Linked DNA regions of Homo sapiens: region 2 is linked to region 1. A link means that fine-mapping ties the variant in region 1 to the expression of a gene that starts in the linked region. Tissue or cell type: whole blood. Region 1 holds a variant in brackets; the other region holds the start of a gene. All regions are shown on one strand. Distances are between the middles of the regions.

Region 1 (4,147 bases):
CCGAATCCTCCTTCTCAAACCTCACTCTCCTCTCCTTTCCGGTTAAAATCTAATAAGGTGTTCAAAGGCCTCTGCCGGCCCCTCCGTACTTCTCCCTCCCTGAATGCTTAGAAAACAGAAGAAGGAAAGAGGAGATGATAACAGGAAAATAGAAAAGCGAGGGTCAAAAGTTAACTGCTCAAAACCGCCTTCACCTAAACCAGGCATTGGCAAACTTTTCCTGTAAACGACCAAATAGTAAATATTCTAGGTTTTGCCATCTCAACTACTCAACTCTATCTTCAAAGAGCAAAAGTGGCCAAAGACAGTCTGCAAACAAACAGGCAAGGCTGTTTCCTAATACTCTTAATCCACAGAAACAGAGGGCAGGCTGCATTTGGCCCACAGGCTGTGGTTTGTCAACACGTAGTCCAAGTACAACAATTTTTATTTCTGTCTATTCCTCCTATGTTTTTGATTATTAAACAGTTACTATAGTTGAAATAGAAAAATAGGAAAAATGGAAATATAAAATATAGCTAAATAGCTAAGTTAATTTGGACTAAGTGATTATCCCCATTTTTCAGATGAGAAAATTGATGTACTTTGAGATTAAAGGATTTGCCCAAGATCACAGAGGCACCATGTGGCAGTGCTTGAACTTGAACTCACAAAGTCTGCCTTCAAAGTCCAAGTTTTTAAGTTTTCTCCTTGTCTAGATGCAAACAAATGTCAATATTGTAACCATAAAAATTGTACAAAACAATGTATAATATTTCCTTAACACTGTAAACATTTAAGTCTTACAATTTTGATAATTTGGTCATTATAGTATTGATCATTATAATTGATAATTGCTGCATAATTTTTCATCATTGGGGTAATAAGTTTTATTAAATTATTTTATATCTCTAATGATTTTATTTTATTAAATTATTTCCTAAGCTAAATTCCCAGGAGTAGTATCACTGGGCATCTCTCAAACCTTGTTGTTATGTACTGGGGAAGAGAGTGCTGATTTGTGGCAACTGCCAATTTCTGTGGTGTAAAGACTCCACAATGGCCACAGATTTTAAGCTACCAACATGACATCACTGAACAGAGCCAAGAAGAGAGGCACATCCTGGGCTCTTGCAAGAAGATGCAAGCTGGTCCAGCACCCAACTGACTTGGCTCATGTTGCCTTTCTTCTTCCCAGCACCAAATTATAAATTGAATTAAAGTGTGAGAGTGTTTCATAAAAACTTTTAAACACTTGATAGTGTGTGAGTGCACTGGTATCTCAAATTTGCTCTAATTTACATCCCCTGGTTCTTACTGAAAGTGTCATTTTTCCATGAGTTCCTTTATGTGTGTCTCTTCTGCAATCCCCTACTCACATTTTTTCATCTGTAGGGTGATGATGCTACTATAAACTGAATGTTTGTGTCCTCCCAAAATTCATATGTTGAAACCCTAACCTCCAATACAATGGTATTAGGAGTTGTGGCCCTTGGGAGGTGATTAAGTCAGGAGGGCTGCCGTCTATTAGCCAGGAAGTGGGCCCTCACCAGACACCAAATCTGCTCGCACCTTGATCTTGGACTTCTCAACCTCCAAAACTGTGAGAAATAAATTTCTGTTGTTTACAAGCCACCCTAGTTATGGTATTTTGTTGTAGCAGCCCAAAAAGACTAAGACACATGCCTTTTCTATGACTTTGAATAACTCTACACATGATAGTTACTCATTCCTTGAACTTGTCTGACACAATTTTGTCTAAACCTTGCTTTTGTTATTTTGTTGTGCAGAAATTATAATGTAATTAAGCCTACTCACCTTTACTCTTGCAAGTCTTTTGGTAATGAACAAGAGAGAGTTCATCCCATCTTCATTTATTCTGCAAATATTCATTAAATGCCTGCTTTGAGGTACTGGAAATACAGCTGGGACCAAAATAATCTCTCTGAC[C/T]TCATGGGTCTTCCATTTGGGTGGGAAACATAAATTGAAAATCAACAAGCAAATCTATACTGGAAGGTCTGGTGGTGATAAAAGCTACAATGGTACAAAGCAGGGTGAGGGGACAGAGAGGAAGGAAGGTCCTCTCTGGGGACCTTCCCTCTGGGAAGGTCACATTTGAACAGAGACCTGAAAGGTGGAGTCACCAGCCGTGCTGATTTTCCTGCCATTGGAGTTTTTTTTTTTTTAATTGAACTCATTTATCTATCTGGATTTTATTTTTGGTATATGATATGAAAGAGGCTCTGGGTACATTTTATTCAGTTTGTCTACAATTCTTTTAATGCCCTTCCTTCTATTTTCAGACATGTTGTTATGAAGTTGGGTCTAATTCTCAGTTCACTAATACATTCCAATGTGTGTATTTTTAATTGCTATTTTTTGGATAGCCCTTTCCAAAAAAGTTCACCAATTCTTGCTGATTCTTCTGCTTTAGCACTAAATTATTCTTTTCAGTCTCAAAATGAACAACCAGCTTCCTGAAAGGCAAACTATGTCTTAACCATCACTGTATGTACAACATCTCCCATAGAGTCTAGTCAAAATAGACTCATAATATGTTTTTGTTGAATGAATGTCAAAACTCATGTAGATGTTTTCCACTCTCATGCAGGCCTAAGAGCACCTCATTCTGTTAAATAGGTCACAAGTAGCAGACAGCTACTCACACCCACTCACAGGCACATCTACTGTTGTCACTGATTTTTAGGGAAAAAAAAAACAGAATGTAAGACTTTAGTCCTTTACTACAAAGCCACTATAAATGTGGCACCTTTGGTAGACAACTGAGGCAAAGAACAGAGTCCCTCAAAAAGACACAGCCACTTCCATAAGAGAAGACGTACGGAGTTTGTGTTTGAATTATTTCATTCCATTTATTTCACTTGGGATAGGATTGAAAGTCTTGATGATGAGGCCATAGCACAGTCAGACCATCTGCTTTTCCAGTTCTGTGTTTGCACCGTCTGTGCATCCATATTCCCCCCAAAACCAAGAAGGCCAGTGAAAGTGGGGCCAGCACAATGCCCCAGGAGAACGTGGAGGAGGCTGTGGGAAGAACAGAGTCACATCAGGAGCTGAACAGTCTCTCACTGTACAAGAGGACAGGGCAATGCAGGTGTACAAGATAAGAAAGAAATTGGAGTTTGTTTTTCTTGATAAATGTGCATTGATTTTCAGAAAGCACATCCCTCACACCAACATGGAGGATATTTGAGAGTGATGTCTGTGGCATTAGAGAAACGAGCGTGATAGGGCAAAATCTGTTAGAAACATCGTAGGGTAAGTGGGCAAGTGCTGAGGGTTTAACTTTGTTCCAACAGTGGGACACTGTGCGTTTAAGATGCTGTCTGTTTATGTCACAGTTGGCCAACTGTGACAGAGCCAGGAACAATCTGCCCTTTTCTAATGAGCATGGGTGTCATGAGGATCAAAGGAAGTAGCAAAGGAAAATAAATTTTGAATAATGGAGCTGCAGGGGCCAACACGATTGCTTGGGTCCAGCTATTTTATGTTCTGCTCCTTGGCGTCTCTGTGTTATGGAAATACAGGAAGAGACTCTGAATAAAAAGTTAAAAAGCAAATGTGAGAACAGAGTGTTATCAGACACATTGTTGATGAGACTAGAATCCTGCATTTTTAAGCTATTATCTATCACAGTCTGTTTAGTCATCCAGGAATCGACATGACCTCAGCCTGTTGCTCCAGAGGATTCTCACATTTTAAAACCCCACAAAGATTAGAAATAAGTTCAGCTGTAATATTCTGGGCAGCTGTTTGAATACACCTCTCAGTCCTGGTGAAAGACTTACAGCCTGTGTTCCCTGGATCAGTCACGGCCAGCCACATGCAGGGACAAGGCTCATGTTATGGAAAATTTTAAAGGTTCCCAGCATCAGGGCCAGACAAACCACAGGTTCCTTGGGCTCACTAATCTGACCCCGAGAGGGAACATTCTGATTTTTGTGGGTAAATGTGTACAACCACCATCTCTCCCAGCCTGCTCATCTGGAAATGATCTGAAACGCCACCCTTCACATGTGTGCCCTCATTCTCAAACTTCACTGTGAAAGGAGCTTTTTGTGTCACAGGCTGCAGCCTCTCCCTAGGAATATTTGACAGGGTGGATCTGGAGTAAGTCCTGAGATCTGTGTTTGTGACCAGTGGCTCA
Region 2 (4,000 bases), 110 kb before region 1:
TGGGGGTGCTGCTCTGGGCCTGCCAAGGTCATGTGAGAATTCAGATCAAATATCCTTTCCTGAACAGCATGGAGGCCACATGAGAGTGGACGGGTGCAGGAGACGCTTCACACACAGCAGCTTGGCAGCTAGCCAGAGACTGAAAATAAATCAGAGTTCCACACCCCTGCCCCAGCAAACCCCATTCTCAAAGGCTCTACCTTTCTGTCTAGCATAAACGTTAACATCGGATATGAATACAGAATATTAAATGAAATATCAAATGAGATATCACACAATAAATTAGAAGGGATTGAGAAAGAAAACAATGCCAATAGCCGCTTGGTAAACTGGATGGCAAAAAGGACAGTGAACGTCCCCATGCCACCTCTGGCTTTCCTCAGCTCATCAATAGTCATGGAGTTCTGTTTCATACATTCAATGTCCAGAAGCCTGGCACCAAACCGCAGCGACTGAGACATCCATCACATTCCCGTGACGAATGGACCCTTGCTCCATGACCTCAAGAGCCCAAGTTCATGGTGTCCCTTGCCTCAGTTCCTAGAATGTAAAGCTAAATCACAGGAATGTGGCCATCTGAGAAGCTACCCTGCCCCAAAGATAAGGCAGTGGAGAGACAGCCCAGCAGGAGCCAGCATCTGCGTGCCTTCCCAGCGGCCTTCCTTCCTCCCGGCAGTGCAGAGGAGAAAGCCCTGGCAGGCAGGACGAGTGGGAGGGAAGACAGAGGGGGGCTGCATGCAGAGGTCTTACCCTCCTTCAGGACATCATCCTCCAACAAGTTGGTCACCTAAACTTCTGCTTCCCCCGCTGTAAAACAGGGGTGATGACAGCACCCTCCTCACAAGACTGTAGGGAGGGTAAAAGACCAGTTGCTGTCAAGGGCTTATAAACTGTAAAGTGCTGGGCATGACTGTTGTAAATAATGAGTGTCTTCTCAGCGCCTACTTGCTTGTAGCTACATTCCCTAGCACCATCCTTTATCTGGAGGGGCAACAAGTTACCCTCCCCAGTGTGGTTAAGGCCTCAGCCCTTACCTTGTTAAGGAGACTGACGGTCCTGAGCCTAACCTCTAAGAGGGACGCTCCTGAACCTGTAGAACGTAGCCGGATAGAAAACCTGAAAGCCATTCACACGGGAAGTCACACACCTACCTAGAACCCCCCTCCAGAACAACTGGCAAGTTCCTTCAAACGACCTGAACAACGTTAACTCTTGCTCCACACAAGAAACACACACACGCAGACCTCACCGCCATCCCCTTCTTACACAACACACTCTGACAACCAAGTGCAACTTAGGGAGGACGCTCACGGCGTCCTGCAGAGCGGGGGACTCGAAGGTGTCAAGGCTGTGGTCCGTCTCACCCCTACCTAGTCCCCGGATGCTCCAGCTTCCCCGTACCTGGACGGACGGCCGTGGAGGGTGATGGGATCCCAGCCCCGGGCGGAACCCGGCTCAGCTCAGAGGGGCGAGAGCCCTAGGAGCCGAGCGAGGAGTGCTTCGGTGCGCGGGCGCGCGATTGTCACATTCCTGCCGCTCCCTGGGGCGCGCGGGGCAGGCCGGCGCCCCCACCGCCCGGCCCGGCCGCTCTCCGGCTCCTCCCGGCCGGCGCCGCGCGCTCCGAGTCGGCTCCGGCCGCCGGCCACAAGCTGCGCCCGCCCTCGCGGCCGGGAACTGCCGGGCGCGGCTCTGGCTCTAGCCCCGCCGCTGCGGGGGCGGGGAACGGGCGGAGACGGCTCGGCTGGGCCAGTCCGCGGGCTGCGAGCGAGCTGGCCGGGTGTCCCAACTCTCCACCCGGAGGAGCAGGCGCGGCTGGACAGACCCCTGCGGACACCGCCCTGCCCCGGGTAGCCCGCAGGGGTCCCGCCGGTTCCAAAGCATTGGAGAGCTGCCGGGCGCTCTCGAGTCGCGGCCCGGCTCCTCCAGGGCTGCGGCGGCTCCACTAGAGTTAGTTGAGACAACTCACCTAGCCACTACGACCTGGCTCTACTACCCCCATGGAGCCTGGCTGCGACCCGCGAATTGAGTTGGCGACTCCAGGGCATCAGATCCCGAAGCAAACGCTCGCCAGAGCGACCTCTGGAGCTTGGTGCCTGGCCAGGGGCTCTCTCCGACTGGCTTTGTGCACTAATTTCTTTGTACCTCCGTTTCCTCTTCTGTGAAAAAGGGATCATAAGAGCACTCATCTCATGGAGTGGTTGAAAACAGTTTTTTAAAAAAAATGAGCTAATACATATAAAATAGTGCCAGGCCCAGAGCTGATACTACTCACGCGTTATCTGCTGGTTTCATTGTTGCTGTTACGCGCCCGGATGAAAAAAGCAATTTAAGTGTCATACTATAAAATCTTGATACCACACTTGGGGGCAGACAGGGTTTTTAAATTTTTAAACTTAAAACCCACTTATGCCCACCAGCTCACTTTGCCAATGAGAATTCACACCCAGGGGAATGGAAGGATGGCCAAGGTCATGCAGCGAACGAACGCCTGGCAGGATCACACCTTGGGCTCCTTGCAGGGAGAGGAGGGGAGGGCGCAGTGGTCGAGTCTGCAGCTCCCTCGGGCTTTCCCCCTCCACTTCGCTAGTCTTCAGCAAGTGACTGGCCCCTCCAGCTTGTTTGGAGGTCTTCATGGGCCATCCTCCAAGAAGAGTTTTAATAAATGATGATAGCTTCCTTCCTTCTAGTACACACCGCCCCTTCCTGCATCCCTTTCAGACTGGGCAGGCTCTTGTTCTCGTAACCCACCCCTGGATATGCCTCTTCAGAAACTCAAGAATTGAGGTAACCTGAGCCTCAGCTGCCCCCGGACAAATCCAGGCTGGAGGAAAAGATGAAGGAATGAGCAGCAGAAGCTCATCTGCCCTAAAAGCTGTCTTGCAACCTGGCATGATGACAATTTCTCATTCTTAAACAATCTGTTTCCAGAAGCTTTTATGGTTCCTTTTCCTCGAGAAAGCAGGCTTACATCAGAGGCCAGTGACGTAGCATTAAGAGAATTCCTTAACAATCCCAGCTCTCAATATTCCTTTATACAGCAGAAGGTCTCACAGCCTTGACTCCACTCAGAATCACCGGAGGACATGACACTCCTGTGTTCAGATCAGTCACGTCAGAGTCTCTGGGGCTGAGGCCCAAAAGGCAGTGTTTTTAAAGCTCCCAGGTAATTCCAGTGCAGCTGGGGTTGCAAGCAGTTGTTCCTCTAAGCTCCCACAGTGATGCCATTACTGTGAATCCTCCAACTGAAGGCTGCTTCAACCACGTGTCCAAATGGCAGTTCTGAAAGCTACAGCAGGTGGGCCTGGCTCCATGCTGTGGAACCAGCCCAGAAGCACTATGATGGTGAACATAAATTCGTCCTTCCATTTTCATAATGAAGGTTTTTAAGCAGTTTACAAGTAGAAAGTGAAATTGATTTGTGCAACCATGTAGAAATAAAATCCGTAATTTTTGTCTTTTTTAAGTGTTGTCCCCGTTCAGCCACTCCTACCCAGTGTCCTGCTAGACATGCAGGCCTCTAGACCCAGGTGGGACTCTCAAACACCCGCCCAACACAGAAATGGAATTGGAAGACCTCCTCTTTCTCACCTTATTACCACTGTTCTATCTGGGACCTTCAAGTCACCTTCTCCCTCACTCAGCCATCCTGACCACTTTCACTGACTTTCTCCTTCCCTTTATTTCCTTTCCTTGGATAACTGGTGTGCCTGCCTGTCTCACTCCATCCCCTGGGTAGGAGGCTTCCGTAAGGTGGAGACTGTCATCCCTGTATCCCTATCTGCTCTGGTCTCAGCACCACAAAAATGCTCTGAGCACATCAACATGCTTTAGTGTAAAGCCTACTGCTTACACTGACATTGTATGCTAGTGATGCAATCCAATGGCCCACATCTTGGACAAAAACTTACAAGAAACAGAAATAGCATTGTTAGCCTCTGGACACCTTCCGGGGTGTCTCCCTCCCACCTCTGAAATGCTTATCATTCAGGAGACTTAACTG

What was found. PIP is the estimated chance that this variant, and not a neighbour inherited with it, causes the effect.
Region 2: it holds the start of IL1R1, and the variant in region 1 is fine-mapped to the expression of IL1R1 in whole blood (TOPMed, PIP above 0.99).

The regions. Positions count from the first base shown.
Region 1 is chr2:102,027,103-102,031,249 of GRCh38, reverse strand. It overlaps IL1R2 (interleukin 1 receptor type 2), which reads right to left. Exons shown (of 9, transcript NM_004633.4): 9 at 2,706-3,024. The coding sequence ends at 2,858. Among named protein-coding and RNA genes, the nearest start is that of IL1R2, 37 kb to the right of the region's middle. The variant C/T (reference allele first, on the strand shown) is at 1,930.
Region 2 is chr2:102,140,422-102,144,421 of GRCh38, reverse strand. It overlaps IL1R1 (interleukin 1 receptor type 1), which reads right to left and starts at 1,676. Exons shown (of 12, transcript NM_000877.4): 1 at 1,402-1,676. RefSeq lists enhancers at 459-753, 519-813.